Linked DNA regions of Homo sapiens. The protein of the gene in region 3 purifies or fractionates together with the protein of the main gene of each other region. This does not show direct contact. Each region holds a gene or a part of one and is shown on either strand. Other genes may lie near its edges. The genes, in order: SH3GLB2, HARS1 and GTF2E1.

Region 1 (2,553 bases), on a different chromosome or scaffold from region 3:
CCCAGGACTAAGTGGGGACAGAGCTGCCACCTCCCCATGGCCCGTGGCATGTGCTACACCTTCAGTGGCTGGCGCTCATCTCACTTGCTCCAGAGACCCAGCAGAGCAAGGATCCTTTCCTCAGAGCTGGATATGCCCTCTTTAACCTGCTGGTCCCCACTTTGCCAACAGGGCCCCTCCAGGCCCCATGTGCCTGATCCCAGTGCCCAGGCTGCTCCTCACCCAGCCCATTCCTGCCCCACCTTGCGGCACCGGGCCCACCTCATCAGCCAGCAGGGCCAGCTCACTGCTGTCGGCTGCCTCGTAGTCATAGAGCACCCGAGCTTTGCGGGTCCCACTGGCAGGGGGGGCCACCTCTTCCAGGCAGAGCGAGGCCTCCCCCGGAGGGGCCAGGCTGGCCACAGAGGGCACCACAGGCATAGTGGCCGCAGCAGTGGTGGGTGAGGTGCTGCTCAGGGGTGGGGAGGCGGGCTCTGTGGTGCCCACGAAGGTGCCGGGAAATCTGGAGAGGAGGGATACATCTTAGCAGGTGGGAGTCCCAGAAGGGACCCCAGAGGCAAACTCCCCTCCCCAGCCCCAGGAGCCCCACTCCAGCCCCGGCTACTCACATGGCACCCTGGGAGCTGGCAGCACAAAGGGAAAAGCAAAGCAAGGGAAGGGTGAGATGGCCCCACCCCCTGGTCCCTGCCATCCTCCCCACCCAGGCATTCCCTAGAAACCCTCAGGGGCTCCAGGGGACTTGGCCGTCAGTAAGGCCAGCCACTCCACCCTCATACACATGAGATGCCCGCACCCAGAGTGGGTTCCAGCAGAGCCCTCCAACCCAGCTTTGTGTCACAGGACTTGCCCAGAGGAGCTCATGCTGCCCACGGACAGGGTATGGGAGCCAGGGGGCCCCAGTGGGTTCAGCAGTGCTGGCCCCGCACCTGCCCAGCTGCTTCTGCAAGTCCAGCATGTGGCGGTAGCACTGTGCGTAGTAGGTTGTCTGAGACTTGACGAACTCGTGGAGGCAGCGCAGGTGGTTCACCTGCGGGGAAGAGGCCAGAGGCTGACTTCTAACCTCCCGCCCTCAGAACAAAAAATTCCGTCCCCATCCCCGTCCTCTACCAGACCTTGCTCCGGCATTCCAGGGTGCCCTGCCCCTGCGCCCACACCCTCCCCGGTGGGACTTGCTCTGTGAGGGCCATTCTGGGGCAGCCCTGCTGACCTTGTGGTTCAGGCACACCTGGTGCCTGCTGAGGGTTAGGTTTAGTGAGGGTGGGCAGTGGGACTCACGTGAGTGCTACTGATTCCCTCCAGCAAGAGACGGGTCACTTCTGCTTGCCGGTCAAACTCTGTCTGGGCCACGCGGAGCTCCTGCTCGGCCTGGGCAGGGCAGGGCAGCCATGAGCACCCACACACCACCCACCAGCTTCCCCGCAGTCTTCTCCTGGAGCCTACCTGGGAGCCGCCTGTCCCTTTCCCCTGGGAACACAGAGAGCCTTCTGGGTCTATGCCTGACTTCACACCTGGAGCCCCAACCCCAGAGAAGCTAGAGCCCCACTCAGGACCCCACAGGCAGCTGCAGTGACAGACCCTTCCTCCATCACCCATCGGAGAAATCCACCCAGCAAGTGCATCCTGAGGGCCTACTGTGTGCTACAGGGTACTGTGGAGAAAACATTTCCCCACAGAGGGGAAACTGAGGCCCAGGGAGGGAAAGCAGTAACCCCTCCCCAGTGGGTGTGGGGCAGAGTGAGAAACAGATCAGACCCCACAGCAGCAAGTGTGCCTGCACCCCGCCACCCCTTCTTCCTCGAGCCCAGCCCCCCAGGCCCCAACTTACCTTGTCCACTTCATCATTCCAGAGCTGTGGAGACGGCAGCAGGAGTGGCCAGCAGGGGAGGGGAGAGGAGGACAGCTGGACCCTAGAGCCTGTGCCCTGCCCCAGCTCCCAGACTCAACTTCTGCCCCCCTGCCCCTCTGCCCCCCCTCCCAAACAGGAGCTGAGACTGGGCCGAGGCCCGGCATGGGAGCTGGGGGCTGGCGGTCCCAGTCCCTCTAACATGCCTCATGCAGGAGGGGAGCAGCCAGCAGGAGTCCTGCTTATATTTCTCCTACAGTGTCAGCCCCATTCTCTGAGTGGGGTCTCAAGAGAGACGGAGTGTCCCCACCCCATCCTGACTGCTGGCTCAGGCTGCTGGGCTGGGCGGCAGAACTGTGTGACCCTGGGCCAGTCACTGAAGCTTTCTGTCCTCTGGCAGAGAAAGGTGGCCTCGTGCTTGAGTCACACTGGGACTCAATGGCAAAAGAAAAACAGGGCAGTCTCCACCCTCTAGGATGTTTCTCCTTCCACTGGGCACAGGGAGGAGGCGGGAAGTGGCATCCAGACCCTGAAGAAGAAAGACGCTGCCCGGCCACGACCAGGAGACCCAGCGCTCCTGCCGCTTCCGGAGATCTGACCCGAGACAACAGCCTGAAATAGGGAATGCGGACCCAGGCCAGTGTGCGTGGCCGGCCCGTGTGGCCCCCATGCTGCTTAGGAAGTCCCCGTCCAGGAGCACTGGAAGTTGC
Region 2 (3,655 bases), on a different chromosome or scaffold from region 3:
TAGTCATGGTCACTTAGGCTACTGGTCCCTCTGCACAAGGATCTTCTCTTGTGAGAGGCCAGGCCCAACTTTGCCCTCCCAGCCTTGTCAGCTCTGACCTTGACCAGGAAGTCGCCTATCTGAAGTGAACTCAGGATCTCGCACATGATCTTCAGGCACTCTGCATCAGGGATCATGGGATCAAAGTTCCCAGCAATGTCAAAATCCTGCAGGGAGAGGGTTAGCCAGCGGTCTTCAGGGATTCACCTTTCTGAAGGGGGGACTCTGGGAGCTCTGTCCTCTAGGAAGGCCTGGTTGCACTCAAGCATAGAATTTCTCTTTCATTTTCTGATCATCAGCCCAGAGGTAAACCCCGGCATCTTTGGGCTTCTCACCAGTTTTGGTTTCCTTTCCATCTACTGGGCTATTCCTTCATTTTCTACTTCATCATCTTCTTAACTCCTCCTACTGGATGGGGTGATTATATGGCTTTAGTGCTTAGCCATTTTCCCTATTCATCCAGAAGCCCTGGCATCAGTCTGGATGATTTGATGTATCAAAGCTAATTTCCTTATTCTCTGCTGTGATCCTATCACTGTGGTTTAAAATAAAGAGCACTGGACCAAGAGTTCTAGTCCTGACTTTGCCTTTCTTATCCCTATGATCTCTTCATGGGCTGGGTATCAAGTTTACTCATATGTAAAATGAAGAGACTTTATTCTCCTCCCCCACCACAGGGATTTTGTGAAATCTGCATGAAAACACCATAGAAGAGGCTGGGTGCGGTGGCTCACGCCTGTAATCCCAGCACTTTGGGAGGCCGAGGCAGGCGGATCATGAGACCAGGAGTTCGAGACCAGCCTGGCCAACATGGTAAAACCCCGTCTCTACTAAAAATACAAAAAATTAGCCGGGCATAGTGGCAGGCGCCTGTAATCCCAGCTACTCAGGTGGCTGAGGCAGAAGAATCGTTTGAACCCAGGAGGCAGAGGTTGCAGTGAGCCAAGACTGCACCACTGCACTCCAGCTTGGGCAACAGAGCGAGACTCCGTCTCAAAAAAACAAAAAACAAACAAAAAAACCACCATAGAAACCCTAAGAGCATTATCTGGGTCATCCAATTTGCTCAGGACACCGTGAGTACTCAATAGATTCTGCTGGCTTGAGAGAGCCCCAAGTAACTCATCCTGCCCCACGGTTTCCCAACACTCACACACTGGTAGAATTCCCGGTATCGGCCACGGGTCATGGCTGGGTTATCCCGCCGATATACCTTTGCTATGTGGTAGCGTTTAATGTTGGTCAGTTTATTCATTGCCAAATACCGAGCAAAAGGAACCTGATGACAAAGAGTTAAGGAGAAAGCCCCTCCTATCACTGTCTGCAAGTTGATTATCATCACCAACAGAAGCTGGGGTCTAACCCCTCCCTATGTGGGTAAAACTGCCACCCATAAGATTAATAGCACTTACAAACATCAGAAAGCATCAGCTGTGCTACCACATGAGGTAGCTGAAGGCTCAAAAAAGATTAAGGCACCTTTCCCTTTTGTAGTGTTGACTGGACTTTTTTGAGCATGGCAAGGGGCTGGGCAGGTTGGCCACAGACCAGAAAAAGGCGACCAGAAAAAGGCCCCCATATGGGATTTCTAAGCAGATGATTCTCTGTGTAGCTTGGAGACAAGGGAAATGTGTTGCTAGTCCATTAAGAAGAATTTTGTTCACTGGACAGGGCAGGGGAGAGGTATTCTGGAGCCAGGGGATGACTGTAGAGTTGGAACTGGGCCCTGACATCAAGCTGAGGTCTCACTCAGGATTCAGAAGATTTCTAAGGATGTGTATGCTCTGTTTAGCCAAAGTTCCACTCCTGGTTTAGAGAAATAATTCCCCTAATCGCCAAAGGCCTCATATTTGATCCTACCTACTCTACCATTCTTAAACCTGAGCCAAGTGAGTGCCAATCCATCCAAAGTCTCAAGAGCCCAAGTTTAGAAAGATACAGTGAGGTCATAGCGAAGGGACAGGAGCTCCCCGCCCTGGTCCTTCAGGTCATAGATAAGCTTGGAGTCTTCCCCATACTTTCCCATCAGTGTTTCCTGGAGAAAACATAAATAAATGTGGTCATAATAATAAACATAACAATTTAAAAGGAAGTTTTGAAAACAAACATGACTGATTCCAACTTGTCTACATTTCCCTCTGCTCTTTATCCCAATTCTTAGGTGTCTGATGTAGTTATCATTAAAAGGAAACACCAATTTTGTGTTTTTTTCTATTTTGATTTTGTAACAGAGCTGAAGTATTTTTCTTACACATTTTCCTCTTAAAAATCTTTTTTTTCTTCAGACTTCTCAGCATGAAGTTTGTTTTTTTTTTTTGAAATGGAGTCTCGCTCTGTCACCAGGCTGGAGTGCAGTGGCGTGATCTCGGCTCACTGCAACCTCTGACTCCGGGGTTCAAGAGATTCTCCTGCCTCAGCCTCCAGAGTGGCTGCGACTACAGGCGGGTGCCACCATGCCCGGCTAAGTTTTGTATTTTTAGTAGAGACAGGGTTTCACCATGTTGGCCAGGATAGTCTCGATCTCTTGACCTCGTGATCTGCCCGCTTCAGCCTCCCAAAGTACTGGGATTACAAGTGCGAGCCACAGCGCCCGGCCTGAAGTGTTTTTAAAAGATGCATAAATTCCAGTGAGAAGAAGCTCTGTACTTACTTCCTCCCTCATGTTATACTGTTAGGTGTTTAGGTTATTCTAATTTAAAAAAAAATTTTTTTAGGCCAGGCATAGCGGCTCACGCCTGTAATCCCAGCACTTTGGGAGGCCAAGGCGGATGGATCACCTGAGGTCAGGAGTTCGTGACCAGCCTGGCCAACATGGTGAAACCCTGTCTCTACTAAAAATACAAAATTAGCTGGGGGAGCTGGTAGGCATCTAATCCCAGCTATTCGGAGGCTTAGGCAGGAGAATCGCTTGAACCCGGGAGGCAGAGGGTGCAGTGAGCAGAGATCGCACCATTGCACTCCAGCCTGGGTGACGAGAGTGAAACTCTGTCTCAAAAAAAAAAAAATTCCCCATAACATTTCAATATCTAATATTTAGGTATATAGCTCTTTTTTTTTTTAAAAAAAAGTATTTTTCTTGATGATAAACTACTAGGAATAGGTTATCAGACCAATAAACATAAATGTTTTTTGATGCCTGAGATTCGAATAATGTCAAAAGTAAAAACTGGGGAATGTCTTAAGGGCATTACAGCAGTCCTTGCCCTGTGATGTCTATCATCGGTAATAGCATATTTCACTTACCAGGTTGGCAAAGATTAAAAAGCCTGAAACTTCCCAGTATGCAGTATCAGAAACAGTAACACACTAGTGTTACGGGCTGAACTGTGTCCCCCTGGCCCCACCCTCCCCAATTCATTTGTTTAAGTCCTAACTCCCAGTAACCTCTGAACATGTCTACATTTGGTGATAGGGTCTTTAAAGAGATGATTAAGCTAACATGAGGTCTCCAAGTTGGGCTCTGATCCAATATGTTGTTGTAAGAAGAGAAAATTTAGATAGGGACAGAGGGAAGACGATGTAAAGACAAAGGGAGGCTGGGCGCGGTGGCTCATGCCTGTAATTCCAGCACTTTGGGAGGCTGGGGTGGGCGAATCACTGGAGGCCAGGAATTCAA
Region 3 (3,655 bases):
GATTGAATTGATTAGATACAAATGGTTAATAAATTTTAAAAAATAGCCTGTGACAATGTTCAGGATGACTAGAAACTCTTGGTTTTAGGTATTTATTTGGCTTTCCCCATAACGTAGGCCCAAATGTGTAATGTGAAAACAAAAAAGACTAAAGCTGCCAGGAAAGGGTACAAGTTGTGGTGGTAAGCTGTAAAGAATTTGGCTTTAAGTTAAAATAAATACATATTAGAAATATTGTGATTAAAAACTATGCTGAAGTTAGGGATGAAATTACTTTGAATACATCAAAAATGATAGATGGATAGATATGTGATGAATAGCAAAATGCTAATTGTAGAATCTAAATGGTGGTCACATGGCTGTTCACTGTGAAATTCTTTCAACCTTTGTGTATATTTGAAAGTTTTAATAATAAGATATTGGGGGAGGGTGGAGGTATAAACTATCTGCTAAAGTCTTCTCTCTGACCTGAGATACTTGTTTTCTCTGTAGGAACTTTCCGCTGTACTTTTTGCCATACAGAGGTAGAAGAGGATGAATCAGCAATGCCCAAAAAAGATGCACGCACACTTTTGGCAAGGTTTAATGAACAAATTGAGCCCATTTATGCATTGCTTCGGGAGACAGAGGATGTGAACTTGGCCTATGAAATACTTGAGCCAGAACCCACAGAAATCCCAGCCCTGAAACAGAGGTGAGTGTAGGCCCTGTGCTCTTACTAAGAACACATTTCAACCTGTTCTTGTTTTAACTACCTGTACCTTGGAGAACAAGAGTGGGTAATTTACTAGGAGACTCAAGACTGTAATGTTACGTAGGTTCTCAGTTGTGCCACATTTGTCTGATTAACGTGTGCCTGTGATGAAATTCGTTTGTTCTAAATGCAGAACACTGTGGACTTCAGGCAAAAATCTTTAAATATTTAGGTTTGACTTCAAGTACTCATTCTGCTTGGGACTGCAGCAACTCAGCCAATTGTTAGCTAATCCTAAATTAGTTGTGCCGCTTGGGGATATTTGAATTTTCCTAGCCAGCTTCTGAAGGCTGAAGGCCTTTAAGGAATTCAGCATTTTCTTTTTTGTTTTTGAAGCATTTTAATCACCTTTATTTCTTAGTTGTAATTGCAACTTCCTTGAAAGTAAAGTATAGCTGGTGTTACCTATGGGTTAATACTCCTAACAGTGGCTCCCTATTTTTATCAGTGTTCCCTAATGTTTGAATTTCAGAGGTAACCTTAGTTTTGCCATGCCAGAAAAGGTGGTTTATATTCTTTCTTGAAAAGCATAAATGAAAATTGGGGTCAGGGAGTGCTCTCCTACTCTACCCTTTTTTTTCTCTCCCTCTTCCCAGCATCAAGTAAGGGATATCTTTATTTAACCTTCACTTCACCCACTCCCTTCCAAAGAGCTCAACAATCAGGCTGTATTTGTATAGTTTTTAGGAGCATTCTTAGTATTTTATTTCCTGTGGTACTGATGTTACAGAATAGCCAGTCCTGAGTAAATTGGGCTCCTTTTAGATGGTTCAAAGCAATCCAATTCTACAGAAAATTTTGTATCTGTAAGAGTTATGAATTTTCTAATCCAGTACCGTGTGTCAGTTAGGATGCCTTTGCCTGTGATAACAGAATATCCAGCTCTAGTTGGAATTAGAATCCAGTCTAGCAGTAGATTGAACAATAAGAAAATTTGTCTTGCATGACTAGAAGTCTTGAAGTAGTACAGTTCAAAACTGGTTAATTTCACAGCTCAATTATATCTTCAGGGATCTAGATTTGTTCCATCTTTATACTCTGCTGAACTCAGCCTGTTGATTATCCTCTTGGGACCATGAGGGGAGCTAGTCTAATATGGCCATGTATTTCTAGGTATCACGTGCAGATGACAATGTCCAAATGCAGAAAAAGGGACCGTCCCTTCCTTGTGTCCTATTTTAAAACTGAAGAAAGGTTTCCCAGAGGGCTCCCTAGGATACTCTATTTATCCCCTGATGTCTCACTGGCTGCAATTGTTTTATATGCATATTTCTAAACCAGCAGCTGGCAAAGGAAATGAGATCACATGACTGGTACTTAGACTAGTTAAGGTTTACCTTCTAGGACTGGGGAAGGTCCCAGAGTTCTTTGGAGCAAATTGCCATTGGTATTTTAATAAAACCAATAAGCAAAGAAAGAAAGGAGCCACAGTTGATAGGAAACTAATAACATCTGTATCACAGATAGCCTTAACTTTTGGTACTGGTTATTTATTTCTTTTTGTGTAAGAAAAGGAATTCCTCTTTTGAAAAAGGAATTTTTCTTTTTGTATCTTTTTCAGTCCTTTTAAGTTATATTGTAGCTCTAACATACAAGCTTATGAGGGAAATTGATTTTACAAAAATACAAAATTTTCTAAGCTTATGGATTATTTCATGTTGAAGTATGCGTCAGTGTAGTATCTGATTGCTTCCTACACAATATACTATCTGAATTATTCTGATGTTTCCTCTCCTACCTGTAGTTATTTGTCCTGTTTATCAAGATGCTTCCCCACTACAATAGCATTCAGTCACCACCACCACTGGCTTCCTGTCTCTAATGTTCTCCACCTACCACAATCCAGCTCCCCTTCCAGGATCTTTATTTCCATATCCCCCACTCACTGCAGGCCTTGGATGAGTCTTAGTGGTACAGTGACACCAGAGGCCCAACAGCAGCTCTCTGTATCAAGTCATCTTCTTCTTATCAGGAATGATGGTGACTCCAGGGATGAAGAAGAACCAGGAAATAGAGGAAATAAACTGATCAGGAAAAAAGGATACCCAAAAATCTGGTCATTAAGAAAAAAGGGAGGAAATGGAGGCAGACAAGAAAGACAGAATGGGGTTCCTAGAGCTGCCAGCCAGACCAAAGTAAAATCATTTCCACGTGGTCAGGAAAAAAACCATTAGGTTAGAAGATGTTACCCAGGTTATAATGTCCCCACCAAAGCATTTGACAAATTCCACTGCTTGGATATAACATCCTGGAGGTGGTATTGATTTGGCCTTTCTGTACTATAGGAGTATGAAGTTTTGAAATGGCCCATCCTGCCCCAAGGATGTAATAGTCCATCCTGCCTCAGTACAAGAGAAGAGGCATCAATAGAATGGTATGGGAACTCAGAGATGATAGCTTTTCTTTTTTTAAATAAGTGGCAATATTATTAGTTTGATTACTGATCTGTAATCAGTTAAATTCTAGCTTGTCCCTAGATCAGAAACTAGGGGCTACCTCTGCAGAACTGTCAGTAGGCCTAACCCAAGAATTGATGGACAATTCTATCCTTTCAGCAAGTCAACCTATTGATGAGATATAAAAATCTTCCTATCTTTCTAGAGTGGAATTCCTTGCTAGTAACCTTCCCTTTTTCATCATCTCTTAACACTTACCTTAAAGATTTTTAAAAATTTAGTTTTGAAATAATATTCCCCTCTCATCTCTGAGTAAGAGTTGTATCTTTTAAAAGTTCTAAAATTTATTAAATAATATAAAAAGATTCAAACATGAATTGTCATTTTTGTCATCTTCAATTAAAATTGTTCCAAATTTTAAAATTTGTTTGACTTATGGTCAAATGTCTGCTGCCTCAAACTAGAATAAAACCCATCTTGAATTTCTATGACAGAATACTAAAAA

What was found.
Region 1: the proteins of GTF2E1 (region 3) and SH3GLB2 fractionate together in Homo sapiens (co-fractionation; one large-scale study listed by BioGRID). This does not show direct contact.
Region 2: the proteins of GTF2E1 (region 3) and HARS1 fractionate together in Homo sapiens (co-fractionation; one large-scale study listed by BioGRID). This does not show direct contact.

The regions. Positions count from the first base shown.
Region 1 is NC_000009.12:129,008,845-129,011,397, forward strand, and holds part of SH3GLB2 (endophilin-B2), read right to left. Parts: intron 1,922-2,553; coding exon of another isoform or gene 1,850-1,921; coding exon 1,826-1,849; intron 1,366-1,825; coding exon 1,276-1,365; intron 1,028-1,275; coding exon 927-1,027; intron 624-926; coding exon of another isoform or gene 609-623; intron 503-608; coding exon 262-502; intron 1-261.
Region 2 is NC_000005.10:140,677,810-140,681,464, forward strand, and holds part of HARS1 (histidine--tRNA ligase, cytoplasmic), read right to left. Parts: intron 2,075-3,655; coding exon 1,979-2,074; intron 1,319-1,978; coding exon 1,193-1,318; intron 207-1,192; coding exon 99-206; intron 1-98. UniProt on the Homo sapiens protein: Catalyzes the ATP-dependent ligation of histidine to the 3'-end of its cognate tRNA, via the formation of an aminoacyl-adenylate intermediate (His-AMP). Plays a role in axon guidance.
Region 3 is NC_000003.12:120,770,236-120,773,890, forward strand, and holds part of GTF2E1 (general transcription factor IIE subunit 1), read left to right. Parts: intron 1-492; coding exon 493-694; intron 695-3,655.